Homo sapiens: one gene and its partners. The gene in region 4 interacts genetically with the main gene of each other region. Each region holds a gene or a part of one and is shown on either strand. Other genes may lie near its edges.

Region 1 (4,300 bases), on a different chromosome or scaffold from region 4:
CTTGTATTTCAAATTTGCACAAACGTCCTGCGAGATACATCACTGCTACTGCTATGATCTCTGGTTCCCACTGCAGTGACAAGGTGGTGCAGAGACTAGTTCAACAAGAAAAAAAAAGGTTAGATAATATGATCTAATATTTATGATTAAACCAGTGCATGGAGATGCCATAACTAACCATTAATTTGCTTATTCTCCCCTAAATTTAATTAAAGTACTATAAATAAATAAACTCAAGTCTTTACTCTTCTAAAGGTACCCGACTAAGTTACTTTAACCATAGTTAGTAATTTCTCTATTCCTTAAAGAATCAGAAGAATTCTAGCACATCCAAAAATTGCTACACCAATGAAAATGACTTATGTTATTTAAACTGTTGAAATCCTAGCCACTCAACTGTTTCTTCAAATGAAATCTTATGGAGGAAGTCAAATGTAAGAGAAGCTTCACTGACTGCAGTGGGATGGGGCTGGCAGCAACTCCATTCACAGGCATTCTGTTTCCCACCACGGCCCCTCATTAGATCCCTGGCCTCTCAAAAGAGTGTTAAGGCTCTAAAACTATACCAGGAAGTATATTTTTGCAAAACCAAATGGGCTCTAAGTAATTAGTTTTCAAAATTCTCCAGTGTATTGTTTTGGACTTATGTTTCAGACTGGTGATAAAATTTCAGCACCTCACAACACCATGACACGGCAGGGCAGAAGGAAACCCTCTGCCGGGAAGCAGATGACCTGGACGTCAGCCCCAGCTTTGCCATTAACTGGCTCCTCAAGCCAGGGCAAGTCAGTTTCTTCTGACACAAAATGAGGGGTTTAGATGAAATGGTCCATAAAGTCTCTGCCTATTTTAAAATACTGTAATTAATCAACATTTGAACATGTATACCTGTCATTTACAAATGTCCATGCCATTTGAACCAACTTTTGAATTTTGTTTTTATCACCTAGAAATGGGGACAAAAAGGTAAATTAATAGCAATAGAAAAATTCACAGGCAGCATCAAGTATTTATTAAAAACCTACCACGTGTTCAGCACCACTCAAATACACAGCAAAGAGCTTTTGCGTGGGAAACAAGGATGAATGATGTGGGTCCACATCCTACCCCTTCTTCCTCCTCATGACCTACGCTGAACCACCATGTATGGAAAACCTGGCTCCAAGGCTAAGTTTATTAGTCCATTTAAAAAATTCTGCCTCATTTTCCTGCCTCTCCCATCACTTGGCAACTGGATGACAGAGCCTGTTTATACATAAAAGGAAACAGCATTAGCAGCTGCAATGCTGAATTGACTGAGCAAGCCATGCCCTTGGTATTTCACACATCAAACTTTGTTTTCCGCTTTTGAGAAGCGTAATTTGAGTGTCATCAAATTATAAAGACTTGATTTCAGAATGAAAAAATTCTTCTGAAAACTTTCTTCTTACCTTTGAGTTGCTTTGCATATTTTAGTAGGAACTGGTATGGATGTTCTACCTGTAAATCAAACTTGATGGTCTGCAGTAAGATTCTCTCCAGAACCATTACTTCCTCCTAAAAATCAATCACAAATGTTAGGACAGTAATTACAATTGCAGGTCTCAAGCAGCATTACAAAAGTGAGCTTTCCTGTCTATTTATTCTCTCTTCAAGTTATATTTTAGCAACTGCCTTTCCTTCCTTTCTCTCCCACTCAGACTTTTAACATGCTCAGAGACACTGATAAATTCTGAAAAGATCTCAAACAGGAAGACAAAGCAGAGGTGTAATGTAAAAAAAAATACTGAAAACAAAAGATCCTTAAAAATATTATTATTTTCAATACATACATGAGTCTCCCTTTACAAAACAGATCTTTACGTTATTGATAATTTGACTAAATTGTAATTTCTTTCAAGACCTCAAATTTTAAAAATGCAATCTTTTAGGAATTTTCATTGAAAACATTTTAAGCAAGAAAGAGTTTATGATAGCCAGCCTCATGAAAACTCAGAGATAAATTGTACCAGTGTGTGTGTATGTGTGTGTATATATACTCATGTACACATATAGTGTATTACGTGCAAATGGGGGCAAATCAATTTTGTGTTTAAATCTTTCATTTATTTGAAATAAATCATCCCAACAACACTTACTGAATAAATGATCATTTCCAATTTTATTTAAAATGCTACCTAAATCACCTCCTAAACTACGTGTGTATGTCTGCCTACACACACACTATCTTTTCTGTTCACTGATCTGCCTGTCTACTCCTGGACCAGGATCAAAGGGATTTGGGTGGGATACAATAGCTCCAGTATTACTTCTCTTTTTCAAACAGTTTCTGGGTTCTGCATGTCCCCCTCACTCAAATTTTAGTAACCATTTTACTTAGTATCATTACAGAAAACATACATGCTATTAATATTCTCATTGGAAACTCAGAGGATTTATAGAATAATTAGGGAGAATGGAGATTTTTAACCATATTGAAGTTTCCTTCCAAAAATTTATTAATATCTTTTCAGTCCTTTAGTTGTTTTAAAGTCCTTTCCACCCCACTAACGAGGTTTCCACAAGGTTTAACCTTGGATATTTTACTGTTGCTATCGTTAATGGAATGTCCTCTTTGATGATACTCTCTAACTAATGTCTTGAACTCAGCCCCTGTACAGCCGACTGTACCTACTGCTTAAAGACAACATAAACCACAACCAAGACACTGTGTGCGGGGAGGACAATTTGAGAGAATTCCTTGTTTGGCATCAAAGACAGGGCGTTGTAGAGGACTGTAAATCTCATCAACAGGTGCAGAGACCCACAGGTCACTGGCTTTCATTTAGAAGCATGGTATTATTTTATAGGATACAGAGATGATTCTATAATTATTATTCCAAATTACATGGCAAGACTAAGGTTTTTCAATCTTAGTTTCCCAAGCATTTTCTCATGAAAGTTTTTTAAAATCTTAGAAACTTTCACACAGTGTAAAAAAAACTGGGCTGGACATGGTGGCTCATGCCTGTAATCCCAGCACTTTGGGAGGCCGAGGCGGGCAGATCACTTGAGGTCAGGAGTTCAAGACCAGCCTGGCCAACATGCTGAAACCCCACCTCTACCAAAAATATAAAAATTAGCCAATCATGGTGGCAGGCGCCTGTAGTCCCCTACTTGGGAAGCTGAGGCAGGAGAATCGCTCGAGCCTGGGCGGCAGAGGCTGCAGTGAGCTGAGACTGTGCCACTGCACTCCAGCCTGAGTAACAAGAGTGAGACTCCATCTCAAAAAACAAAACAAAACAATTTTTTTCTTTGAATGTCATTGTCACCACCTGCTTCCCAGAAGCTTCAACACTTCCTCTAAATTTAGAAACAATTCTTTTTACCAAGTGTACCAATTGGCTTGCAGGCTGTAGCCCACATACTGTTACAGGATAGCCCAGGGCCTGCCCTCCCTCTGTCTTCCAAATATTCAATTAATGGGGTCATTATAGGTCTTTGAGCAAACATCATTCCTCAGGAACGCCTTCCCTCAGCCCCTATTTATCCGGGGGACTTGCCTGGGTCCCTGGGTGGAATGCTATCACAGCACCTTAAATGACCTTTTACAGCGTACACCACAACTCATCATCAAATAGTTATATACTCATTTGATTAAAATTTATCCTGCCACTCAACTGCAGAGTCCATGAGAGCAGAGACCATGTCTGTTCTGCCTCGTGCCTCATGTCTAGTGCCCAACACAAAGGCTGAAACGAATATTACAGAGAAAAGCCACACAATTAAAATAAAGCTAATTAAGGCAAAAAATGTTCCATGGGACTCATGATCTTATTTTTCCTAAATACTTATACTGCCTCCACTAAAGAATTGCCCTCCTGTCTGCAGAGGAAAACATCTTCCCCAATGTCTTCACTGCTCCCAGCTCCAGGTGTTTTCCTTTGGCCCCGACTCCGACCAGGGAAGACTGCGCGAGATAGAGAGGCAGGGGGCAGGTTGCAAAGCCCCCTCCCCCATTCAGACCTAATTGGTATGGTGACCCCTCTTTTCCCATTTTCTGGGGCACAGGAGCTTCAGAACTTCTACTTTCACTGTTCCTGGACTGGGGCTTGGTTTCCTGACTTCATGGTACAGTGGGTAAAGGCTAAAAGTAAAGGGGGCTTCTCCAAGGCACCCTGGGATGGCACAAACCAGCAGCTGCCACGAGTCCATGCCCTGCTGTGGTCCCAGATCTGTGTGATGCCTTATCCTTAAGCACAGCTTGCCAGCCACAAGGTTCACCTGCCCCTGTGACGGGGGTGTGACTGAACCACAGCATGTTCCTACAATCAGACTTATC
Region 2 (3,783 bases), on a different chromosome or scaffold from region 4:
GAACAGAAAATTGGTTAACACCAACTCCATCACTCCTTTCTTGTTTCACATTTGCACTCAGCAGGCCAGTCTGGCACCTTACTGAGTAACTAACCGAACAAGTAACAAAGGATAACTATTTTAGAAATATTGTATCTCATGTATAAATTGGTCTTTTTTTCTACAGGGAAAACTAATGTTGCAATTATTAAAATCTATCTCTAGAACCACATTTATAAGGTTTCTATCACATAACCAACTGTAATAGTGATAAGGTATATAAAGTCACAAGACATAGTCCGCTCCCTGTCTCAGAGCAGGAATGACATGTAAATAAGGAAACTTAAGGGGAAGAAATAAGAGGAAAGAAAGAGAAAGAGATGGAAAGGAAAGGGAAAGAAAGGGGAAAGGGAAGGGGAAGGGAAGGAGCTTCAGAGGGCTATAGCAGGCATTTGTATGTAGAATATTTGAGGAACAATGGATGAATACTCGATCCTACTAGACCATCAGAACTCAGACATCTAAAGGGCCAAGGAAAGATTTCAGAAGATGTTAACTGTTCACGAATAGCAAATGAACAAGAGCATATGTCATTTTGAGTTAAAAAATGAAATATGGCCGGGCGCAGTGGCTCACGCCTGTAATCCCAGCACTTAGGAAGGCCAAGGCGGGCGGACCACGAGGTCAGTTCGAGACTATCCTGGCTAATATGGTGAAACCCCGTCTCTACTAAAAAACACAAAAAATTAGCCAGGCACAGTGGTGGGCGCCTGTACTCCCGGCTACTCGGGAGGCTGAGGCAGAATTGCTTGAACCTGGGAGGCGGAGGCTGCAGTGAGCCAAGATCATACCACTGCACTCCAGCCTGGGTAACAAGAGTGAAACTCCATCTCAAAAAAAAAAAAAAAATTCTAATTGCTGGCTAAATCACTATTATAGAAAACATTATAGTGAACATTTTTTAATATAAAAAAATTCTGTCCTCATTTTATAATACCTAGGTCAGACAGTAATGGGGAGAAACAATTAGTGGGTCAAAAAGTATAAACTTTTAAAGCCTTCATATACTCTATTAAATTGATATCCCGTAAGACTGTATCATATGTAATGAGAATGACTACTTTATCAAAATCTTATCATCACTGGGAATTCTTATTTAATAGGTAAAATACCTTGACAATTTGACACACATATATATGTATGTGTGTCTCACTCTTGTCGCCCAGGCTGGAGTGCAGTGGCGCGATCTTGGCTCACTGCAAGCTCCGCCTCCCGGGTTCACGCCATTCTCCTGACTCAGCCTCCCGAGTAGCTGGGACTACAGGAGCCCGCCATCACTCCCGGCTAATTTTTTGTATTTTTTAGTAGAGACGGGGTTTCACCATGTTAGCCAGGATGGTCTCGATCTCCTGACCTCATGATCCACCCACCTTGGCCTCCCAAAGTGCTGGGATTACAGGCATGAGCTACCGTGCCCAGTCCAATTTTTTTGTTTTTAAGACAGGGTCTCACTCTTCGCCCAGGCTGGAGTACACTGGCTCAATCATAGCTCACTGCAGCCTCCAACTCCCAGGCTCATGTGATCCTCCCATCTCAGCCTCCTGAGTAGCTAGGACTACAGGCATGCACCACCATACCTGGCTAATTTTAAGTAGAGACGAGGTCTTGCTATGTTGCCCAGGCTGCTCTCTAACTCCTGAGCTCAAGCAGTCCTCCCACCTTGGCCTCCCAAAGTCCTAGGACTATAGGCATGAGCTACCACACCCGGCCCATAATTTCAGTGTTTATTTCTTCTGCTGTTAGTAGTAAGGCCAAACCGTCGTTACTATTTGGTTAGTTGTAACTACCTTTTTGAGACAGTCTCGCTCTGTCGCCCAGGCTGGAGTGCAGTGGAGCGATCTTGGCTAACTGCAACCTGTCTCCTGGGTTCAAGCGAATTTCCTGCCTCAGCCTTCCAAGTAGCTGGGACTACAGGCGCACGCTGCCATGCCCAGCTAATTTTTTTGTATTTTAGTAGAGATGGGGTTTCTCCGTGTTGCTCAGGCTGGTCTTGAACTCCTGAGCTCAGGCAATCCACCCGCCTCGGCCTCCCAAAGTGCTGGGATTACAGGCGTGAGCCACCGTGCCCGGCCGATTGGTTATACTTTTGTAAATGAAACTTAATATCTGTAACTTACTTTGAAATAACCCTTAGGATAGAGGCATCTACCTAAATCTACCTATATTGCAACTATCTTATCTTTCTGTAGGTGGTTTATACAACGGTCATTTTATTGTGTCCGGAACAAAGGCAACTTAAAAACAACTCTTTTCCTAATTAAAAAAGCACAACATTAAAAGGTAATAATATTTTTACTGTGAAAAAAATTTTTTAATGAAATACGTAATTTATAAAATGAAAAGCTTGTATATTCCCACACTCCTGGAAAGCCAATTTTAAATACATCAAGGAAAGCCCAATTTAAATGAATCCTCTACTGAATTCTTTTGCAGTATAGATTCACCCTATCAATTACTAGTTTTGTCAATCAGTATTTCACACATAACCTCCGTTTAAAGGTAAGACACACACTTTTCATTCTCCAAGAACAAAAATTGTTCAAGCACAAGGTGATGTACTGACATCAACTCAGTTAGTGACACCCGACTTTCTCAAATTCACCATCAAACTTACCTGGCAGCATGCCTCTCAGGAGCCACAATGATATTTTATTCCAATTCTGTCTTTTAAGATTTAGAACCAAATCACACGTTTCAGAGTACCTCCTGTCCCTCTTCATAGGCCCTCATTTTCAGGATCTTTTAATTTTCTTCACCCTATTAAGTCTGCTTTTTTTTTTTGAGACAGAGTGTGGCTCTGTCGCCCAGGCTGGAGTGCAGTGGTGCAATCTCGGCTCACTGCAAACTCCGCCTCCCGGGTTCATGCCATTCTCCTGCTTCAGCCTCCCGTTAAGTCTGCTTTTAACAAAAAATTACCTTAATTGTAGCATCCTCTGAAGCAGAGACCATAACACTGAACACAGGATGGAAAATGACTCGAGTGACTGGACTCCTGTGACCACTCAATGCATATTTTTCTGGCGGACGGGGAATCCATTCTTTTGGGTCTCGTTTCTGACCAAGAGGTCCACCTGACGTAAATTCTTCTTTTGCTTCATTTAGCTTTGATTCTAATTCCATAACCTTGAAAAAGAACATGTAGTTACGTACAGATAGATTTCAATAAAAATAGCATGTGACATTTTAAAAAACTGCCTTTATTTTGCAACTATGTATGTAGGATACTTGAAAAAATTTCAGTAATCTCCAAAGCATTTGTCAAATTTAAATGAAAATTATTTATTTTGTACAGCATCAAAATCTAAGTCATGTGAGGAAACTAAAAATTGAGAAAAATTCAGTACAATTGCCTTAACTCTTTAACAAAAAGAAAAATTTCGATTTGTATCTGGTGACAGAGTCCTCTACTAATTAGAGAAGGGCAGTGAATTTGTCTTGGTCCCTCTAAGGCTGCTACTCTTAGTAAGTTCTTTCCAAACCACATTATATATGGTAATAATAATATTAATAAAAGCTAATATTTATTGAGCATCTACTATGTGCTAAGCATTTTTCTAAGAGCTTTATATGATGAACTCATAACAATGTTATTTACTTATTCTAACTTTGCCTATGAAGTATCCATTTTAGGACTGGAATATTATTTGTTGTATTTACAGATAAAAATAAAAGCTCAGAGATAAAAACAACTTGTCTACGAGCACATTTTAGTGTTCTTTTCCCAGCATTAATCACAATGGCTCC
Region 3 (4,300 bases), on a different chromosome or scaffold from region 4:
AATAAAAAAAACATTTAGAGCCTGCTGGTGTGGACTGTAAAAGCACAAAACTTGTTCAGAGAAGGGAACTATGACTTTATTCAATGATCATGAAAGCATAAAACTCAGTTTTGTCCCCACTTCTACCTTGTCCAACAAGATAAACCTTAGAAATACACACAAATACCATTTTAAATTTTAAAATGTACTAATGCTAATAGTAAATGTTTAAACATTAACTATTCCAATATCAAAAACATCTTTCCAAATTTAAGGTGTGCCAAAGAGGAAGTATAAAGCCATGAAAACTGATGAGACAGAACAATTACATTTGTGGCTTCAGGAAAAAAACAAAGCCCACATGAATTACAGAAAGGTCTATTAATTAACCTGGGGGCTATAAACAGGTTAAATGGGATTCAAATTTTCCCCAAAGTGGGAAAGAAATCTGTGACTGAAGAGAATAGTTAATACAAACGATAAGGTTACATAGGAAATGGAAAAGATATCATTTTCCTTTACATTTGGAAACAGACACAATCTAAAGATATCTGAAAATTACTATGTCTGGAATAGCAAAATTGATCATTTTGGGTGGTACCAATGCTGATATGTACTTTCTATCATTTTTCTAAAATGAAAACAGGCTATATGGGTTTTTATTTTTGTTTACTTTTAAAAAATCTTATTTAAAATCAAGATATGTCAAACAAAAAAGCTTCTCTCATCATCTAGATTCATGTTTTTGCTAAGAAAAATTTCTTCAAGATCTGAATGGTGGCAAACACCATTTTCGGACTCTAAATTATAAAAAAAATAGTCTGATAGAAGTAAATCAATGTTTTACAGATGTTTAATAAGTACTGGGTCAAAGCTCACTAATCAGTAAAAAAGTAGATCCAACAGGTCTTCACAGAATCAAATACATTTGTAGAAGACAAAAAGAAAAAATTTCAAGACTATCACAATGAAACAGGCAAATAATGCTATACAAATCTTTTCATAAAATCACTAGATCTTATTCAGAAATATCATCCCCGAACCCTGAACATTTATATTATATACTTTAGACATGCTAAATTTAATACAGAATGAAATAATTTTGCAGAATGTTAATTTAAATAAATTTAAGTTTCAAACACACTTAAAGCCTGGTTTTCCTATAAAAAGGGGTATTACTGTTTTAAAGTTTTAACGAATTCAAATTCAGATACTGGTTGTAGTTTTAGAAAGCACCTACAACCTTTTTCAAGACAACAAATATTAACCAATGCTTACTACTTTTTAAAAATACTTTGTCACTTTTAAAATTTTATCACTTTTAAAATATATCATATATACAAATCATATAAAATAGAGCATGTTTAATCATTCATTACTTTGCAGATAAAGAAAGAGAAGCTCAAATGTTCCAGTTGACCAAATACACTTGTCTAGTAACAAATGGATATTAGTATGAAGTTCCGGCTTTAGAAATTGACAGTTAAATCAGATGGGGAACAATAAAAGCAACTTTAACCAAAGTATAAAGAACACAAATGCAAAATATTAAAAGGGCATATATACTAGAACATAAATTTCAAATTAGTGCACCAGAAAGCTCTATATCTTTAACATTACAACATTTAAAATCTACTGAAATATTCAAAATCAACTATAACACCCTCACTTAAATGATGTACACACTTTTATCCGTATTATAGTCCATAACATCAATAAACTGTGTGGTTTTACCACAAACTGGCAAACTAAAACCTACAGGATAAACATGGCCCATTGCCTATTTAGAATGGCCTGCAAGAATGGTTTTTACGTTTTTAAGGCGCTTATTAACAAGAAAAAAAAAAAAGCAAAGAATATGTCAGAGAACACTTACAGCCCACAAAGTCTATTTGGCCCTTTACAAAGAGTTTTGCCAACCCCTGATATAATACAAATGACCAAATTTTAAGTACTTTTCTCCATCACTGAAACTCCTTATATATACACTGGAATATAATATACAAGGGGAAAAGTCTTGGAGGTTAAGGAAATGCAGGTTATAGCTTGCATTTAGGTATCAGGAAATTCCCAGTCTTTCTGAGTTCAAGATTCTTCACCTCTGATAAGAGGCACTTAAAAAAGGTCAGTTTTGGGGAAAGGAAAAGCAGGACATTTGAATCTTCTATGAGTTTTTCAACCTGTAAGAAGACTCTCCTTCCTTATAACTATTGGACTTTAATAAAACCTGCCTGCCCCAACCCTCTTGCTAATGACTGGGCTATGTGATATATATAAAATCTGGTCCAGAACACAAAACAAAATTCCTTCTTCAACAAAACAGGTATGGTATATGCATACATGTTCTGATTATCTACTGCTGTATAAGATGATCACCCTAAAACTTGACTTAAAATGGTAACACCTTTCATTATGGCTCATGGTTCCAGGGCTCAACCGGGGTCTCCCATGTGGCTGCAGTCAAATGGGGCTGGGGCTGGGGCTGAAATCATCTGAAGGCTTGTTCATTGACAAGTCTCGTTGATGTCTAGGCTGGGAAGATTCAAAGCTGGAGCTTCTCCAACATTTCTGTGTGTGTGATTACTCATTACTATGGCAACCACCGAGTAGGCAGATCTTTTACATGGTAGTTTAGGACTCTCGTGTCCCAACAGAGACGGGAACAGGTAGAAATCCAGCAACACCATCACAGTATTTATTCATCACAAAAGCTTACCTAGCTTCAAACAGAGGGGACACATATTCCAATCACTGTTGACAGAAGTGTCATACATAATACATGACAGATGTTTCCAAAATTACTATAGTTTTATTTAAGGGTAAATATTTTAATTATATACTTGAGGTGCATTTTTAATAACAAAAATTCATTTAAATAGGTCAATGTTAAAGCTTATAGTATTAAGTTATAAAGCTAATGTAAACTGCTGCTTCTGGCCATATTCTTCACTGACTTGAAAAAGTACACTTTGCATACATTTTAATTCATTTTTTTAACGTAGAATGAATTATAAAAGAAGAAACATTTTAATACTCTCACAAGCTACTGCTGTTAAAGACTATAATCATCACTGGCATATCCTTTTTGAAAAGAAATAATTATCTCTTTTAGATATAAAGTAATATCCACTAGTTCTAGGTTGACTTTCTTTTAACCTACCTGAACAAACGTTTTTAACCATTTCCTTTGTCCTGAAATTTAACATTATTGATATTCTATATAGAGATATGTATACTTTCAATTACTTCATAATAGTTTGACAGTAGTATCCCAACCCAAGAATAACAACAGTAAACAAAGATTAGAAATGCCAGGTTAAGAAAAGGCCTATAAGCATACAATTCATGCACTACAAAAATCCTAATTTCTATGACATAAAGCACTTCACATTGAAAGCCTTTTTTAGATGTCTATATAGAGAACTATAGACATTAAAAATCACTTTTTTTTTAATTTGTTTTTTTGGAGACAGAGTCTCTCTCTGTCACCCAGGCTGGAGTGCAGTGGCGCAATCTGGGATCACTGCAACCTCCACTTCCCAGGTTCAAGTGATTCTCCTGCCTCAGCCTCCCGAGTAGCTAGGATTACAGAGGCCCGCCACACCATGCCCAGCTAATTTTTGTTATTTTTAGTAGAGACAGGGTTTCACCATGTTGTCCAGGCTGTTCTCGAACTCCTGACCTCAGGTGATCCACCTGCCTTGGCCTCCCAAAGTCTTGGGATTATAGGCATGAGCCACCGTGCCCGGCCTTAAAAAATCACTTAAAATCTTTAAAAAAAAAAAAAAAAAAATTTTTTTTTTTTTTGAGACAGTCTCACTGTTGCCGAGGCTGGAGTGCAGTGACATGATCTCAACTCACTGCAACCTCCGCCTCTGAGGTTCAAGCAATTCTCCCTGCCTCAGCCTCCCAAGTAGCTGGGATTACAGGCACCTGCCACCACGCCGAGCTAAATTTTTATATTTTTAGTAGAGAAGTGGTTTTGCCATGTTGGCCATGCTGGTCTTGAACTCCTGACCTCAGGTTAAAATCTATAAAATTTTGTTCCAAAATTAAGATGTCACAAAAAGATGGATTTTTTTATAATGTGCCAGTTCAAGAAATAAGCTTAATGAAACAATCCTACATTAAACAGTATTTACATTTAGAGCTAAAATTCAAATCTATCTAAAAGTTTTACACTAGCAGTCTAGAGGATAAACTCAGCTCTTGAATGCTGTTTTTAAAAATTCTAAGGATTTAATATGAAAACCCACTTAAAAAAATACTATTTGATTATTAGGGGCCCAGATTCTCACCTGAAAACAACCAGCTGGAAGAG
Region 4 (4,300 bases):
GGGAACCAGCATAATTAAAGGCAAAGGGCGCCTCAGGGTGGAGTGGCACTCAAGGCCTCTCTGATCCCACCCTGCCCTCTCTCCGATCCCACCCTGCCCTCTCTCCTGCTTTCTCTCAGGCTGGGCCATCAAGATCAGGCCTGAATGTTCCTGCTTGCACTTGCTCTCACCTCCCAGGGTTCTTTGTCCTCTGGCTGGAACAAAGTTCCTATCTTAGCTCTTACCCACTCATCTTCTAGAACCAGCTGTAACACCACCTCCCCTCCTCAATGCTTCCAAGGCCCCACATCTGTCTGTCTGTCCCACACCTGTGACACTTTATAATCAAATTTCCCCTAAGTCAGTCTTCCCCTTCAGACTGCCTAGCTCCATGAAGGCCAGGAATGATCCGAATTCACTGGCCCAGCAAATAGCTGGTGCTCAGCAAACATGTTTGTGGGATGAGGCAATCTGGATCCCTGTGGAAGGAGCACTGTCCTGAGAGTCACAGACCTGGAGTCTTGTCCCCTTTCTGCCTGGCTGGTAGTGTCACTCTGATCAGTTAATTAAACTTTCCGGGGCTGGGCGCGGTGGCTAACACCTGTAATCCCAGCACTTTGGGAGATGAAGGCAGGCGGATCGCTTGAGGTCAGGAGTTCGAGACTAGCCTGGCTAACAACATGGTGAAACCCCGTCTCTAATAAAAATACAAAAACTAGCCGGGTGTCGTGGTGGGCATCTGTAATCCCAGTCCCTCAGGAGGCTGAGGCAGGAGAAATGCCTGCACCCGGGAGGGACAGGCTGCAGTGAGCCAAGATTGCGCCACCACACTCCAGCTGGGTAACAAGACTCTAGCCTGGGCGACAGACTCCATCTTAAAAAAAAAAAAAAAAAAAAAAAAAAAAAACACCAAAAAACCCCACCTTTTTGGGCTGTCTTCCCCTTTGTGAAAGGACAGCTTGATTATGTCAGGAACACCCCACATGTGCTACCCTTCTCTGCTCCTGTGGCACTTTCCTCCACGTAGCCTTAACTTTGCCTCAGAATCTTTCTCAAGGCAGCACTTTAAGATGCCATGTCAATCAACCAGGATTGGCACACGAAGCGAGACGCAGTTAGATGATCATAGAGATCTTATTGCTCAAACGCCCAATGGTTCCATCGGCCTAATGGAAACCTCAGCTCCTATATGCTTCCCTTCTGAGAGTGTCAGTGTCCCCACCAGTGGGACAATGTCAACGGTCGCTCATCTACCTCTGTGAACTTGTCAGCCACCATGTAGCGGACGCGCCAGGACTTGTCTTCAGCGGCCTGGCGCAGAGTGGGCATCACCAGGGCCTCCAGATCCTCCTGGGGCAGAAGCTGGGCGATGTTCACGCACGCCTCCACCGCCAGCAGCCGCACCGAGTCCTAGGGAGAGGAGAGGAACAGTGGGAGGGCAGCAGAGGCCTTGCTGAGCTCTGGGATTCTCTTTCATGGGCAGGAACCACCAGAAGGACGGGAGAGCAGAGGGCCAGGAAGCAAAACTCACCTGCTCGTCAGAGGCCAGGTTGGAGAACATGGGGATGATCTCACTCTTGACGTTGTCCAGCTCCAGCACCTTGGCAAACTCCCCCAGCTTGGAGGCTGCGGCCCGCCGCACCATGGGGGTGTCATCTGAGCACAGGTTCCGGAAGTACCTGGGAGTCGGGGACGGGGATCCTGAGGCAGCAGGCAGTATGGCAGAGAGGAGCAAGCACAGACTCTGCAGTTGTGTGGGTCCAGGTTTTAGCTGAATGACCTTGGGCAAGTGATGACCCCCTCTCTGTCTTCCCAGCCCTATGAAACGGAGCTGATAGTAACAGTACCTACCCCACAGGTCCGCATGAGGTTTAAATGAAAATAGTGTGTGTGAGACACTTCGCAGATTGCGCATAATAAATCTAGTCAATGCTAAGTGCTGACGATTACATCATTCCCATAAAAATTGCTTAACCAACGAGCCAGGCACAGTGGCTCATACCTGTAATCTGAACACTTTGGAAGACCAAGGCAGGAGGATTGCTTGAGCCCAGGAGTTCAAGACCAGCCTGAGCAACATAGTGAGACCCCATCTCTGCCAAAAATAAAAAATGAGCCCAGCGTGGTGTTGCACACCTGTGGTCCCAGCTATTTGAGAGGCTAAGGCAGGAGGAATGCTTGAGCCCAGGAGGTTGAGGCTGCAGTGGGCTATGACTGCACCAGTGCACTTCAGCCTGGATGACAGAGCGAGATCCTATCTCAAAAAACAAACAAACAAAAAACTGCTTAACTAAGAGGCAGGTCTAGAGCCACAGAAAGGCTTTATTTTTCAGCAGCAATTGCTTCGATCAAAGGCGGTGGGGGCCAGTGTAAGTATCTAAGCAAGTGTACAGCCATAAACCAGAGTTCTGGAGTGAGTCAGGCTCAAACCCGGGCTTGACGGTCAATCGTTTGCAAAGTAGACGAGCAGGAGGCTGAAAACTGAGGTGGTTTATCTGCCAAAGGCACTGGACCTGGGACAGGCTGGAGATACCATCAGATGTAAGTTGCTGAAAGTTTTTATGTTCCAGATTTTGCTCTAAGCACTTTATGTGTGATAATTCTTTTAAATCCTCACATTAACCAGTGGGAAGGAGGACCTGTCATCATCTCAATTCCTAAGTGAGCAAGGGGGCAGAGGTGGGTAAACTGACACGTGGCCGTGTCCAGAGACCAACTCTCGAGGATGTGGCCTATCAGGTGGTAAGCAGGAGTGGGAGTGGAGAGAGTTCAGGGGCATTTGGGCCCCAGCTAGACCAAAAGGAGTCTGAGGCTTTAGAGAAGGTTGGAGCTGAGATGGGAGCTTGGAGCTTCCAAGGAGGCAGAGACTCACTGTCGAAGTTCCGCCTTCACAGCACTGGACACTCGGGGGTAGCAGACGGAGAAGAGGCCGCAGGCCGAGGTGCGGGAGGTGAACCAGTCGCCGCCCGCCAGCCGCTTCACTAGCGGCACAAAGTGCGCCTCCAGGTCAGAGGGCGAGTGCTCGTGTGAGATGGCCCGTAAGGACTCCACTGCCTTGTCCCGCACCACTGTCTCCTCCACTGTGGCCAGCGACTCCAGCGGTGGCTGTGGTGAGAACACAAAGTCACTGGACAGCTCCCTCTCCACCATCCGCAGCCCTGGAGCCCCATCCTGCACCCCATCATGGGCTCATCTCCTCAGAGAAAACTTCCCTATTACCCATCCCGACCTTCATTAAAATAGCCTTTAAAAATGGTTGCAATGAATGACTCAAAGGAAAAACGTAATATTATGCCAGCCAGCAGAAGGTCTCTGTCAGCGTGCCTTCCACAAAGGTTCTTATTTAGGGGTCCTTGAAGGAGTTTCACTGGGGTCCATAAACCTTAAAATTACACACGTTGCTTTCTGAGGAGAAAGTTCTTAGCCTCTCAAAGTGCAATGATCATCACTGACACTGTGTAGAACATCTACTCACTGTGTGTACTAGGCAGGACCTCCGTGTTGTACCAGGGGTGCTTGTTCTTCCTCACTGAATTCTATAAAGCAAGTCCTGATTTTAAAGAAGAGAAAACGGGCCGGGCGCAGTGGCTCACGCCTGTAATCCCAGCACTATGGGAGGCTGAAGCGGGTGGATCACGAGGTCAGGAGTTCAAGACCAGCCTGGCCAATATGGTGAAACCCCGTTTCTACTAAAAATACAAAAAAATTAGCTGGGTGTGGTGGTGCGCACCTGTAATCCCAGCTACTCGGGAGGCTGAGGCAGAAGAATCCTTGAACCCGGGAGGCAGAGGCTGCAGTAAGCCGAGATCGCACCACTGCACTCCAGCCTGGGCAACACAGCGAGACTCCGTCTCAAAAAGAAAAAAAAAAAAAAAAAAAAGAAGAGAAAACTGAGGTACAGCCTGGCTTGCCCAAGCTAGTAATAGCTACAGGTCAGGATCGAAAACCTGACCTAAGCTTCCCATGAACAGTTACACACAGCTCTGGTGACTGAATTGGGATCTCATGTTTCTGGGGGACTATGGGGCTCGGGACTGCTCGCTGGTTGTTACTGTGGGCCTAGAATGACTGTGCTCCTTCAGATACATACGACTGGCTCTCCACTGTATCCCCAGAGCCCAGCAGCACTCTTAGCACAAGACAGGAACTCTTAATTAGTGACCTACTGAAGGGAGACTCAACTTATCCCAATATGTTCAAATAAAGGTGTGGAGGTCTCTGATCTGAAATTCAACTTGGGCTGACAGGTATTTAAAGCAGGAAAAAAAAAATCATAAATGGAAATGCCTCCAGGGCTCAGTCAAGTAACAGAATGATGCCA
Region 5 (4,300 bases), on a different chromosome or scaffold from region 4:
TCACTTGACTAGCCTAAAAAAAATTCCAGCCGGGCGCGGTGGCTCACGCCTGTAATCCCAGCACTTTGGGAGGCTGAGGCGGGTGGATCACGAGGTCAGGAGTTCAAGACCAGCCTGGCCAAGATGGTGAAACCCCATCTCTACTAAAAATACAAAAAATTAGCCGGGCGTGGTGGCACGCACCTGTAATCCCAGCTACTCCGGAGGCTGAGGCAGATAACTGCTTAAACCTGGAGGGGTGGAGGTTGCAGTGAGCTGAGATTGCACCACTGCACTCCAGCCGGGGTGACAGAGTGAGACTCCATCTCAAAAAAAAAAAAAAAAAAAATTCCAGTAAATAATAGGCTTAAGTGAGGTCTTTTCCCATGAATATAATGCACCAAATTAAAAAAAATCATTAATTGAGGCTTTATTATATGCCAGACACTTTGCTAATTGCTTTATATAAAGTAGCCCATTTAATTTTCTCAGAGTACTTAATGATGTATGTAGCATATCAACATTTTACAACAAAGAAATGCTTAGTCACATTAAATAACTTTCTGAAAGTCATTCAGAACTAGTAAAGTGGCAGAGTTGTTTTCAAAGTCAGTTTTATTTTTTAGTATAGATATCATTTGTTTATTATAGAAGAGACATGGCAATTATTTACATAATTAAATATTTCAGAACTTAAGTGCAATGAGCAGCTTCATGTTGATGGCATTTCAATAGTGATTTACTTCAGTCTACATACTTTCTAAGAATGTCAGCATCTCTAAATAAGAAATAATCTGGCTGGGCATGGTGGCTCACGGCCTGTAATGGCACTTTGGGAGGCCAAGGCGGGCAGATTGCTCAAACCCAGGAGTTCAACGCCAGCTTGGGCAACGTGGCAAAACCCTGTCTCCACAAAAAGATACAAAAATTAGCCAGGTGTGGTGGCTCACCCTTGTAGTCCCAGCTACTTGGGAGGCTGAGGCAGAAGGATCGCTCAAGCCTGGGAAGTTGAGGCTGCAGTGAGCTGAGATCGTGCCACCACAATACCCTGGACAACAGAGACAGAGACCCTGTCTCGAAAAGAAAAAGAAAAAAAAAAAATCCTTGGCCTTCCAGGTCAACTGAATAAACCTGAAGAGTTGCAAAGTAGTTCTTTACTTTTGTGCCTCCATATTCTGGGAGAATAATTCTTTATCTCTAACTTTCACATTAACTGGTTGAATCCACCTTTTCCTTGAAAGCTCAATCCAACAACTACTGTTGCTTGCAATGCTTTACCTTGAGATTTTTCTGGAAGCGTAATGCCTCCTTTGGTTACAGTTTCAGCTGTACTCCTTTCAACCAATACTCCATCAAAGAGCATAAGAAACTTCTAAGTGCCGGTCCTGCTATGACTCCTGCTGCTGTAGCTCATATTCTCCAAACCCAGTTTATTTAATTCTAAATCCTGTGGTTCTAACCACTATATATACTGCAGTATATGAAATGGCCTACTTTTTTAGAAAAATAAAAAAATTGTTCCTAAGTTCTAAATATAGAGAAGTTTGTTAAATAATATCCTACCAAATATGTTAAGTTTTTATGATATTATCAGAAAAAATTCAGTGATACTCTCTTTTTTTTTTTTTTTTTGAGACGGAGTCTCACTCTTTCACCTAGGCTGGAGTGCAGTAGCGCGATCTCGGCTCACTGCAGGCTCTGCCCCCCGGGGCTCATGCCATTCTCCTGCCTCAGCCTCCCGCGCAGCTGGGACTACAGGCGCCCACCACCTCGCCCGGCTAATTTTTTGTATTTTTAGTAGAGACGGGGTTTCACCGTGTTAGCCAGGATGGTCTCGATCTCCTGACCTCATGATCCGCCCGCCTCGGCCTCCCAAAGTGCTGGGATTACAGGCGTAAGCCACCGCGCCCGGCCTCTTTTTTTTTCTCCTAGTATCTACTGCTTTAAAGTAATGCTCTTCTGATTCACTCTGGGAACCTCTCCTCCCCATTTTTAGTCCTTGAGCTCCTGAAGGAGTTTTCTACGCTGCGGCTCAGCAGTAAAGCACTTGCCGTGGCGCAAGCCGCTCATCAAGCTTATTCAGTTGGCCCACACCAGGCCTAAACATGGGCATGTGATTAAGTAAAGCCAGTCAGACACAATGAAGTTTTGCCCGGAAATATGTGAGTGTGAGTGTGTGTGTGTGTGTGTGTGTGTGTATCTTGACCTGGAAATATGTGAGTGTGAGAGTGTGTGTGTGTGTGTGTGTGTGTGTGTATCTTGACCTTCTTTTTGAACATGAAGCTGAGAGACTTGGAGGTCTAAAGCTAAAGCTGCCGTCTTGCTTTCACATGAAGCCTGAAACTAGCGTTAACTAAGATGAAATCAATGCTAAGAGAAAGAAAAAAAAAAAAAAGACCTCATAATATTGGTTGAATGCAAACTTAGCTGTGCCTGAGTTAAGCCCTATTCCTCAACTTTGCAACTTACACAATTCCCTTTCTTGTTTAAGCTCGTTTCATTAGGTATCCTGTTACTTGTAACCAGAGTCCAAGCTGAGACACTTGATACACAAAAATCAATATGTGTATTTTTTTAATCCATAAATCTCCTTATGGCAGGGGCAGATCTCACCCTGATCTGGACACTCTGTTTGCTACTTAGACTTGGTCTCTGTGGGTCATGACACAGATCCTGAATTGGCCTAGAATCCTAATCCAGCTGTGGTGGTGCAGAATCCCACCCTAGCCCTGGTGTCTTGGCCAAGTCAGGTATAGCCTTTCTGTGAAACAGTGTTTCAGATATTAAACGGCTATGAAGCTTAGATAAAATTCAAATGCATTCTTTACAAGTATAGTACTTACAGTAAGCAAGCTAGAAGAACTCAACGTATTCACCCAGTATTTATTCCACAACAGCTCAAGCAATTTGCGATCCAAAGAGGATTTGAAATATGAGACTTCTAAGGCATAATATCTATGAAATAAAAGCATAAAATTTAGTAAGTAAAAAAAAAAATTCAACTACGTCACATAAAACTTATGGCCAGATTTAAGTGAGTTACACTTTATTCTCAAATATTCACATTTTAGTCTTTATTCCAATAAGGCAATAGCTAACCATGGTTTCCTCACACTTCAAGGGTTGTGGATCCAAATCTCCTACTAAACTTCTTGTTTTATTCCTTTTTTTCTGTAGAGCCCAGAAATTCCCCAAATGTTATTAACAACCAGTCAAAACTTCTGAATGACAAGTTTATTCCTGTTACTGAGTTCATAAATTCAAGCCAACAGCACATAAACTTAATAAGCTGCCTCTCTAGGGTCAACTATAATTTTTGTTAGCCTCTTTAAAATAATAAAAATGACATGTGGATTCCATTCTTCCCTTCCTAATTCCCCAGTTAGGACCTACTGCTTTTTGAAAAGCAAATTTTAAGGTAGGTCCTTAAGGCATCTAAAATAATTGCTCCCACTTTCAAAGGTGCCTAATTTATCATCAGGGCATAGTAAGGAAAAATCTAGTTAAATGTCTGAAAAATACATATATTTTTAAGATGTAAACTTACATCTTAAACTTACACATGCTTCTGTGTATCAGTGGATATAAAAAAGCATGAGACATCTTTACCTTAAGGAACTCAACATTTATATGGGGGATGTGGTCTAAACCCACATCAAAATTAAATATAATGATATACATTGAATAACAATAAGTGATGCTACAGTGCTATATAAAATGAATCACCTACCAACTAAGGGTTAGAGATAATAAGTATTCTTCATATAGAGGAGCTCAAGCTAGAACTGCCTGAGAAGCCTCAGGGAAAAGGCAAGGTGTAGGGTAAACATTTTTGAGTCTATGGTATGGATATGTGGAGAGCAAGGAGGGCATTAGGCAGAGAGCATCAACACACAAAAAGGAAAGACATGTAAGAGATAATAAGGCAATGGGTTTAGCTGGAAAATTTAGCAAGAGAAGAATTATGTGAGGGGAAGCTAGAAAGCTATGCTGGGGTCTAGGTGGTGAAGGATGTTACACAAAAGGTTAAGAATTTTTTTTTTTTTTTTGAGACAGAGTCTTGCTTGGTCACCCAGGCTGGAGTGCAATGGCACAATCTCAGCTCACCACAACCTCTGCTTCCCGGGTTCAAGCGATTCTCCTGCCTCAGCCTCCCGAGTAGCTGGGACTACAGGCTCCCTCCACCATGCCCAGCTAATTTTTGTATTTTTGGTAGAGATGGGGTTTCACAATGTTGGTCAGGCTGGTCTTGAACTCCCAACCTCAGGTGATCTGCCCGCCTTGGCGTCCCAAAGTGCTGGGAGCCACAGTGCTCGGCCAA
Region 6 (4,300 bases), on a different chromosome or scaffold from region 4:
GGCTAAGGGAAGGGAAGATATTGGTTAGGACTAAATCTCCAAGTCTTCCAAACTCCCCAAGTTTCCTACAACTTTCAAAAGACACTAGCATTTGTCACTTTGGGAGAAAGAGCTTCATGTTGAGAAATAAAACATTTTGCATCTCTAGCTTAAGAGGCGGCACATCTTGAAAAATCGACTCCTAGGACAAGTATCTCCTTAGATTAAAAAAATATATATATATATATGTAATAAAAACTCTAAAAAGTAAGTTTCCATAGCTCATTTGTGAATAGCCATGACCCATACATAGGATTCTCAGGCTAAGACCAACATTCAATTCTCACTCTCATCCTAAAGGCCACTTGGCCTTTTTGGATTCTTTCTTCCTTGCAAGGTAGCAACTAAATAACTGAACAGAAGTGGAATTAGCCAATAGAATAAATGGCTGAATTCCTTCTCTATGTATGCTTCACCAATACTATTACCTGCAATTTAGTGCCCAACGGACAGAAGCAATCTGTGAGAAACATGGCAAAAGCTCAGTTGCTGGATATGCTAAACCCAGTTTCACTATCACTGAACTTTACCAGTAAGGATCATCACTGGCAGAAAGTTTTATTCAACAGCTTAAAAAAAAATTACCTGTACTTGTCTTGTACTTTCTGCTTTATATCCTGCAGAGAATCTTGGGAAATATCTCGTTCAAGGTAGCCCGAGAGCACCTCTGTGGCATTCTCTAGATCTGCTTGGTTATTCTGTAAGAAGAATGAAAGTAAATTTTGGCTTCAAAATAAAGCTAAAAGATAAACCATTTTCACTGTTTTGTTGACTACAGACTGCTCTCAACACTCATTCTGTAACTTTCATAGGTGGTTTAACTGCACCTGTAAAGCTCTATGGGCTTTCATCTCTAATAACTTGTTTGTTCTTTTCCAGAACAATTTTTTAAATGTTAAAAGAACGAAAGATTTCACCCATTACTTTTGGAAGAATACTGAAGACCATTTGAAAGGATTTAAAATGTCTTTTGGAATCTTCTCGTTCTGAGAGCTGCTCTTTGCTGAAAACTCAAAGGTAAATGAGAAAAAATAGAAACCTATTATTGCTTACATCTGGCTATACTTATTTCTTATAAGAAAACACTGTATGGAAGATTCAAATTGTATCATCCTTTACCACTATGGCTAGTTTTGTACCTGTTACCCAACTGAAGTCCCATCTGCTAGTCAGTCTTATTGTCTAGTCATATACAGATATCAATGTTTTATGCATCAATTTTAAATGAACATCTTTACTTGAGAAAACCTTTACTGCTAAAAGCTGGCTTTTTAGTCATTATTTCTCCACTAAAGATAACCACCACATTAACTTCTAATATTGCAGGGTTAGTTTAGCCTGAATAAAGGCTTTTATTGAGAACTTATGATGTTCCAGGTGCCGTATAGCAATTAACACAAATTGTCTCACATAAAACACAAATTGTCTCACTTAAACCTCATAACAACCTAGAAAGGTACTATCCTCACTTTAAAATGGACAAATAAGAGGTTAAGGAATTTGCTCCAAATCAACAGAGCTAAAACATAATGAAGTAAAGATTAAAATCTAGGGCTGACTCCAGAACCTGCATACCTAATCACTAGCTGGCTAAACCACATCGATCTGAATATAATTTAGGACAAGAAATAGAAATTTCTTGTATCTTTGTAATAAATACATTCGTCTACCTACATGTTCTGAACAAACAAGAACCCTGAAAACTCTGTATCTTATATATGAAAGATCAGGTAGACCTATGATACAAGGTGGGCTTTTTCCTCACCCAGAACTACTCCTACCTCAAAGATAATGGACTGGTTATTCTTTTTGAGGTAGAAAGCGAAGACATAAGTGTACATGAGTGTGGCACGACACTGGCAGAGGACATCAACTGCCTTCTTCAGGAACTGCACCTCAATCCAGGACATGTTGTGCTGCTGCATCTCCTCCATTTTCTGTTTCACCTGAGCATATAGTTTGTGCTCAAAGCGCAGGCTCTGCATGTGGTTCATATAGCGATTACAGTAGAACAGGTACCTCTGCAGGGCTGCCCTAGATCGCTGTCCCATTAAGAAAAATTGGGTGATATAATTATAACACATAAACTGTACATAAAAGCTGATTATCAAATTAAAACCATAATGAAGTCTCACTTCACACCTGTTAGAATGGTTTTTATCAAAAAGATGAAAGATAAGTCTTGGCAAAGATAAAGAAAGAAGGAGACTCTTGATACACTGTTGATGGGAATGTAAATTAGTATAGCCATTATGGAAAATGGTATGGGGAGGTTCCTTAAAAAACTGAAAACAAAACCACCACAGAATCCAGCAATCCCACTACTGTGTATATATGAAAAGGAATTGAAATCAGTATGTCAAAGGTATCTCTGTACTCTCACATTCACTACAGCATTATTCACAATAGCCAAGACATGGAATCCATGTAAAGTGTCCATCAATGGATGAACACAGAAAGAAAACGTCATGTATGTACACACACACACGAGTACTCAGCCTCAAAAAAGGAATTCTGTTGTGACAACATGGATGAACCTGGAGGACATTACACTAAGTGAAATAAGCCAGGCACAGAAAAGAAATACTACATGATCTCGCTTATATGTAGAAACTAAAAAAGTTGAACTCACAGACATACAGAGTATAATGACGGTTACCAGAGGCTTGCGGGGATAGAGGGGTAGGAAGGGAGGGAATGGGGAGTTGGTGACCAAAGAGTACAAAGTTTCAGATAGACTGGATGAGTAAGTTTTGAGATTTATTGCACAACAGGGTGAATATAGTCAATAATAATATATATTTCAAAATAAGTATCATTTCAAATGTCTCACCATAAAAATGTTAAGGCAAGGCAATACAACAATTAGTTTGATTTAATCATTGCATTGTTTACATATTTCAAAACATTCCACTGTACTCCATAAATGTGTATAATTATGATTTGTCCATTAAAAATATTAATAATTTAAAAAGCTGATTTACTGATGAAACAGTACTGTGATCTAGGCTAAAATCAGGAATAGACATCTACTGCTACTTTTGTTATTTAATACTCTTGAAAAATGTCCTATTAATTGTACTTTCCAATACAGTAGCCACAAGCCACACCTGACTACTTAAAATTCAATTTAAGAAACTAAAAATTCAGTTCCTCATCGCTCAATAGTCACATGTGCTTAGTGACTACCAAATTAGACACTGGTGATAAAGAACATTTACATCATTACAAAAATGTTCTACTGGATGGCACTGTTCTACAGTATGCCACAAGATGTAAAACAAGCAAAAAGCAGAGATATTTTTAAGTAGAAAACTACAGTGGCAACTACATACCATGTAACTCCTGATATAATACAATAGAAAGTATAATCAATTAAGTATTCTGGGCTCCCCCCCCAACCACTGAATCTGAATTTGATCAAGTTTCTTGAATTAATCACCAGTGCAGAAAATGCAGGGATAGAAGAACCTATTAAATGACACCATGCAGTTGCAACCAGCAAAATCCATAATGTGGGAAACTCTACAGGACAACACGATCTAGTTTCTTCAACAAAGAAAAAAAAGCAAGGAGGGGGGAAGAGAAGGAACAACAGGTAGAGGAGACTCAAGAGATATCAATTAAATCCAATTTGTGGACCTATGTGGATCCCAATTTGAACCAACTATAAAAGAAAATTTAAGATAGGCTGGGTGTGGTGGCTCATGCCTGTAATCCTAGCACTTTGGGAGGCTGAGGCGGGTGGATTGCCTGAGCTCAGGAGTTTGAGCCAGCCTGGGCAACACAGTGAAACCCTGTATCTACTAAAATACAAAAAATTAGCTGGGCGTGGTGGCATGTGCCTGTAATCCCATCTACTTGGGAGGCTGAGGCAGGAGAATTGCCGAGTTGCACCACTGCACTCCAGCCTTGGGGAGAGAACGAGACTCTACCTCTGAAAAAAAAAAACAAAACACCAAAAAACAAAAAAAAGCAAAATTTAAGATAATTGGGGATATTTGAACAATAGATAGTTGATACCAACAGAGTATTGCTTTAAAACATATACAGTTGACCCTTGAACAACACAGGATTAAACTGTAAGTCTACTTTATATGTGGATTTTTTTCAATAAATATATTGAAATATTTTTTGGAGGTTTGCCAACAATTTGAAAACACTTGCGGACAAACCAAAATTAAGAAAAAGAGTTGTCATGAATGCATAAGACATATGTAGCCTATCTTATGATTTACTACGATAAAATATACATAAATCT
Region 7 (4,300 bases), on a different chromosome or scaffold from region 4:
TGAAACTTGAAAACATGTTCAGTGAAAGAAGCCAAACACAGCCGGGTGCAGTGGCTCACACCTGTAATCCCAGCACTTTTGGAGGCCAAGGTGGGCAGATCACCCTGAGGTCAGGAGTTGAGACCAGCCTGGCCAACATGGTGAAACCCTGTCTCTACTAAAAATACAAAAAAATTAGCTGGGCATGGTGGCGGGCGCCTGTAATCCCAGCTACTCGGGAGGCTGAGGCAGGAGAATCGCTTGAGCCCTGGAGGTGGAGGTAGCAGTGAGCCCAAATCGTGCCACTGCACTCCAGCTTGGGCACCAAGAGTGAAAACTCCTTCTCAAAAAAAAAAAAAAAAAAAAAAAAAAAAAGAAGCCAAACACAAAAGGTCATATATTGTATGATGGAATTTATATGAAATGTCCAGAATAGGCAAATGCAATAGGCTGATATGGGCACAGTGGCTCACGCCTGTAATCCCAGCACTTTAGGAGGCTGAGGTGGGCAGAAATGGTTGTACAACTCTCTGAATATACTAAAAATCACAGAATTGTACAGGGGTTTTCTTTTTTTTTTTTTTTCTTTTGAGACAGGGTCTCACTCTGTTGACCAGCCCAGGTTGGAGTACAGATCAATCATGACTCGCTATAGCCTCAACTCCTTGGCCCAAGCAATCCTCCCACCTCAGCCTCCCAAGCAGCTGGGACCACAGGCATTCAATACCACATCTGGCTAATTTTTAAATTTGTGTAGAGCTGGTACCTCCCTATGTTGCCCACACTGGTCTCAAACTCCTGACTGGCCTCAAGCAATCCTCCTGCCTTGGCCTCCCAAAGTGCTGAGATTACAGGTGTGAACCACCACACCTAGCCTGAATTGTACACTTTAAAAGGGTGAATTTTACAGTATATGAATTATATCTCAAACAGCCGTTATAAACAACACTCCACACAATTACTATACGCATTCTGTTTCTACCATTTTAACACCAAAAAAACTACAGACAAAAATCTCAGGATAAAATACTGTCCTTCAAATTTAATAAATATGACTTCATGAAAAAATTCATTACATTGACTTTATTTTCACATTTCATCATAGACCAGGTGAGAACTTTGTCAAACACCACAGAGCCAATGGAACTGGACATTTAAAAGGGATGTTAGTTACTTTTCCTACTCAACTAAGTATCAAGCAGTTCAGATGAAGCAATATGCATCTGAAATCAATACTTGGAGGCATTAAAATGCAAGAACCAAAAGAAAACAACAGATAAAATATTAAATGTATTTGCAATTCAAATTAACCTTTTTTTTTTTTTTTTTTTTTTTGAGACAGAGTCTTGCTCTGTCGCCCAGGCTGGAGTGCAGTGGCACGATCTCAGCTCACTGCAACCGCCACCTCCTGGATTCAAGCAACTCTTCTGCCTCAGCTTCCCAAGTAGCTGGGACTACAGGCACGCGCCACCATGCCCAGCTAATTTTTGTATTTTTAGTAGAGATGGGGTTTCACCATATTGGCCAGGCTGGTCTCAAACTCCTGACCTCATGATCTGCCCACCTGGGCCTCCCAAAGTGCTGGGATACCAGGCATGAGCCACTGCGCCCGACCAAATAAACTTACTTTTTGAAGACGAAACAAAACACTCTACCTGCCCCAAACCAACTCTGCTCCAAGGATCCTCTTTGAGACCCAGTAGTATGAACAAAATGGCATCTAGCACTTGAATTCCAATTCTGTCTGGTACTAAACTGGTGAACTTGAGCAGGTGGCTTAACTAAATCTCTTTCCTTATCAGTATACTGAGGAAATAATAATAATACCCACCCTCACAAGATATTAGGGAAGTGTAAATGAGATCATGTAAAGCAATGCTACTCAAACCTTGGTCTTCAGACCACTGCCAATCCACAAACTATTAGCAGTCTGCATCAAGGTAAGTACAGAAAGAAAGCATTAGCACTTAGAACATCTTAGGGCAATTTGACAGGCAGTTTACAGTTTTGTTTTGAGACAGGGTCTCCCTCTGTCACCCAGGCTGGAATGCAGTGGCGTGATCTTGGCTCACTGTAACCTCTGCCTCCCGGGTTCAAACTATTATCGTGCCTCAGCCTCCCAAGTAGCTGGGATTACAGGCCTGTGCCACCATGCCAGGCTAATTTTTTTGTGTTTTGTAGTTGAGATGGGGTTTCGCCATGTTGCCTAGGCTGCTGAACTCCTGGCCTCAAGTGATCCACCCACCTCGGCCTCCCAAAGTGCTGGGATTACGGGCATGAGCCACTGCACCCAGCCAATGTTTGTTGAATCTAATGATGATAATAATAAAAAGCCTGTATTCTCTATGTCTTTTTAAATGTTATTTTTCTAGTAATTTTATTTTACAGAAGTGCTTTTAGAACACTACTGATCTGCAACAGCTTGAGGGAAAAATCTACCTGGTCCTTTACCAAGACAGTTTGAGAAGCAGTGATATTAAGCACTCTACCCAGTGCTGAGCACAAAGTAAGAATCCCTGGCTGGACATGGTGGCTCACGCCTGTAATACTAATACTTTGGGAGGTTGAGGTGGGAGGATCACTTGAGTCCAGGAGTTTGAGACCAGCCTGGGCAACATAGCGAAGCCCAGTCTCCACAAAAAATAAAACACAAAAATCAGCCGGGCATGCTGATGTACACCTTTAGTCCCAGCTACCCAGGAGGCTAAGGCAGGAGGATCACTTGAGCCCAGGAGGTTGAAGTTGCAACGAGCTGAAATTGTGCCACTGCACTCCAGCCTGGGTAACAGAGTGAGACCCTGTCTCAAAAGACAAATAAACAAAACAAACAGAACCCCTCCCCCGCCCCAAATATTAATTTCCTCTCCATCTGTCAGACTCTATAGTCAGTTACTAAATGCTTAGGGAGAACCTTCCTGGCAAAAGATAGCGTGCAGGTGCAATGGTAGCGCTAAAGAAATTTAAGAAATGTAGATGCAGAGGCCAGGCGCGGTGGCTCACGCCTGTAATCCCAGCACTTTGGGAAGCCAAGGCGGGTGGATCACAAAGTCAGGAGTTCATGACTAGTCTGGCCAACATGATGAAACCCCGTCTCTACTAAAACTAACAAAAAATTAGTCAGGTGTGGTGGCGGGTGCCTGTAATCCCAGCTCCTCGGGAGGCTGAGGCAGGAGAATCACTTGAACCAGGGAGGTGGAGGTTACAGTGAGTTGAGATCGTGCCACTGCACTCCAGCCTGGGCGACAGAGTGAGACTCCGTCTCAAAAAAAAAAAAAAAAAAAGAAATGTAGTTGCAGAAATAAAATCCACAAATATAGAACAAACAATGTAAAAGATAAGGCAGTACAAGCTCTAAATACGTGATACTGAAAAAAACTAAAAAACTAGTACTCTTTTCAGGTTAAAGTGGTCAAGGAGGTTTTGTCTGAGGAAGCATGATTAGAACTGGGCCTTTGAAAGCTGCATAGGATTAAGGCAGCTGGGAATAGGATGGGCATTTAAGCAGAGAACTGCCAGTGCAAAACCAAAGAGGGAGCCATTATGAATAGATGAGTCCAACAGGAAAGCAATGGAAAAGCAGCTGGAACCAGCTTTATGGGAAAAACCTCATCTTTGTCCATCAGTTCAAAGATTTAGAACCTAAGCCAGGGAGCCACTGAAGATTTCTGAGCTAGAAAACAAAATGATCAAACCAGGGTCACACATATCCTACTACTGTATCACTATATACATCAGTTTGGCCATTTTCCCGTGTGGCCTCTATCTCTTTTCCTTTCAGTGCACTCACCCTGCAAAAGACCATACATAACCTCAGATCAATGCAACCATCTGCTTCCTAGACTTCAATTCAAATCTAGGCCCAGATGTGCTGGAGAAAACCAAACGACCCTCTATAGTGATATAAGATAGATGATGTTGCGGGAAGTCAGGGACCCCGAATGGAGAGACCGGCTGAAGCCACAGCAGAAGAACATAAATTGTGAAGATTTCATGGACATTTATTAGTTCCCCAAATTAATACTTTCATAATTTATTACGCCTGTCTTTACTGCAATCTGTGAACATAAATTATGAAGATTTCATGGACATTTATCACTTCCCCAATCAATACTCTTATAATTTCCTATGCCTGTCTTTAATCTCTTAATCCCGTCATCTTCATAAACTGACAATGTATGTCATCTCAGGACCCTGTGATCACTGCATTAACTGTACAAATTGTTTGTAAAACGTGTGTTTGAACAATATGAAATCAGGGCACCCTGAGAAAGAACAGAACAACAGCGATTTTCAGGGAACAAGGAAAGATACCATAAGGTCT

Evidence for each region.
Region 1: changes in PPP2R1A (region 4) and CCNK together harm fitness more than expected from each alone (negative genetic interaction), as found in Homo sapiens cells (one large-scale study listed by BioGRID).
Region 2: changes in PPP2R1A (region 4) and PAFAH1B1 together harm fitness more than expected from each alone (negative genetic interaction), as found in Homo sapiens cells (one large-scale study listed by BioGRID).
Region 3: changes in PPP2R1A (region 4) and YTHDC1 together harm fitness more than expected from each alone (negative genetic interaction), as found in Homo sapiens cells (one large-scale study listed by BioGRID).
Region 5: changes in PPP2R1A (region 4) and COPS5 together harm fitness more than expected from each alone (negative genetic interaction), as found in Homo sapiens cells (one large-scale study listed by BioGRID).
Region 6: changes in PPP2R1A (region 4) and ARIH1 together harm fitness more than expected from each alone (negative genetic interaction), as found in Homo sapiens cells (one large-scale study listed by BioGRID).
Region 7: changes in PPP2R1A (region 4) and TIMELESS together harm fitness more than expected from each alone (negative genetic interaction), as found in Homo sapiens cells (one large-scale study listed by BioGRID).

Annotation. Positions count from the first base shown.
Region 1 is NC_000014.9:99,498,002-99,502,301, reverse strand, and holds part of CCNK (cyclin-K), read right to left. Parts: intron 2,113-4,300; exon of another isoform or gene 1,537-2,112; coding exon 1,431-1,536; exon of another isoform or gene 947-1,430; coding exon 889-946; exon of another isoform or gene 96-888; coding exon 1-95. UniProt on the Homo sapiens protein: Regulatory subunit of cyclin-dependent kinases that mediates activation of target kinases.
Region 2 is NC_000017.11:2,666,371-2,670,153, reverse strand, and holds part of PAFAH1B1 (platelet-activating factor acetylhydrolase IB subunit beta), read right to left. Parts: intron 3,163-3,783; coding exon 2,956-3,162; intron 1-2,955. UniProt on the Homo sapiens protein: Regulatory subunit (beta subunit) of the cytosolic type I platelet-activating factor (PAF) acetylhydrolase (PAF-AH (I)), an enzyme that catalyzes the hydrolyze of the acetyl group at the sn-2 position of PAF and its analogs and participates in PAF inactivation.
Region 3 is NC_000004.12:68,339,772-68,344,071, forward strand, and holds part of YTHDC1 (YTH domain-containing protein 1), read right to left. Parts: intron 1-4,300. UniProt on the Homo sapiens protein: Regulator of alternative splicing that specifically recognizes and binds N6-methyladenosine (m6A)-containing RNAs.
Region 4 is NC_000019.10:52,210,044-52,214,343, reverse strand, and holds part of PPP2R1A (serine/threonine-protein phosphatase 2A 65 kDa regulatory subunit A alpha isoform), read right to left. Parts: intron 3,085-4,300; coding exon 2,852-3,084; intron 1,659-2,851; coding exon 1,511-1,658; intron 1,390-1,510; coding exon 1,234-1,389; intron 1-1,233. UniProt on the Homo sapiens protein: The PR65 subunit of protein phosphatase 2A serves as a scaffolding molecule to coordinate the assembly of the catalytic subunit and a variable regulatory B subunit.
Region 5 is NC_000008.11:67,048,408-67,052,707, forward strand, and holds part of COPS5 (COP9 signalosome complex subunit 5), read right to left. Parts: intron 2,935-4,300; coding exon 2,823-2,934; intron 1-2,822. UniProt on the Homo sapiens protein: Probable protease subunit of the COP9 signalosome complex (CSN), a complex involved in various cellular and developmental processes.
Region 6 is NC_000015.10:72,578,512-72,582,811, reverse strand, and holds part of ARIH1 (E3 ubiquitin-protein ligase ARIH1), read right to left. Parts: intron 2,082-4,300; coding exon 1,821-2,081; intron 738-1,820; coding exon 625-737; intron 1-624. UniProt on the Homo sapiens protein: E3 ubiquitin-protein ligase, which catalyzes ubiquitination of target proteins together with ubiquitin-conjugating enzyme E2 UBE2L3.
Region 7 is NC_000012.12:56,438,843-56,443,142, forward strand, and holds part of TIMELESS (protein timeless homolog), read right to left. Parts: intron 1-4,300. UniProt on the Homo sapiens protein: Plays an important role in the control of DNA replication, maintenance of replication fork stability, maintenance of genome stability throughout normal DNA replication, DNA repair and in the regulation of the circadian clock.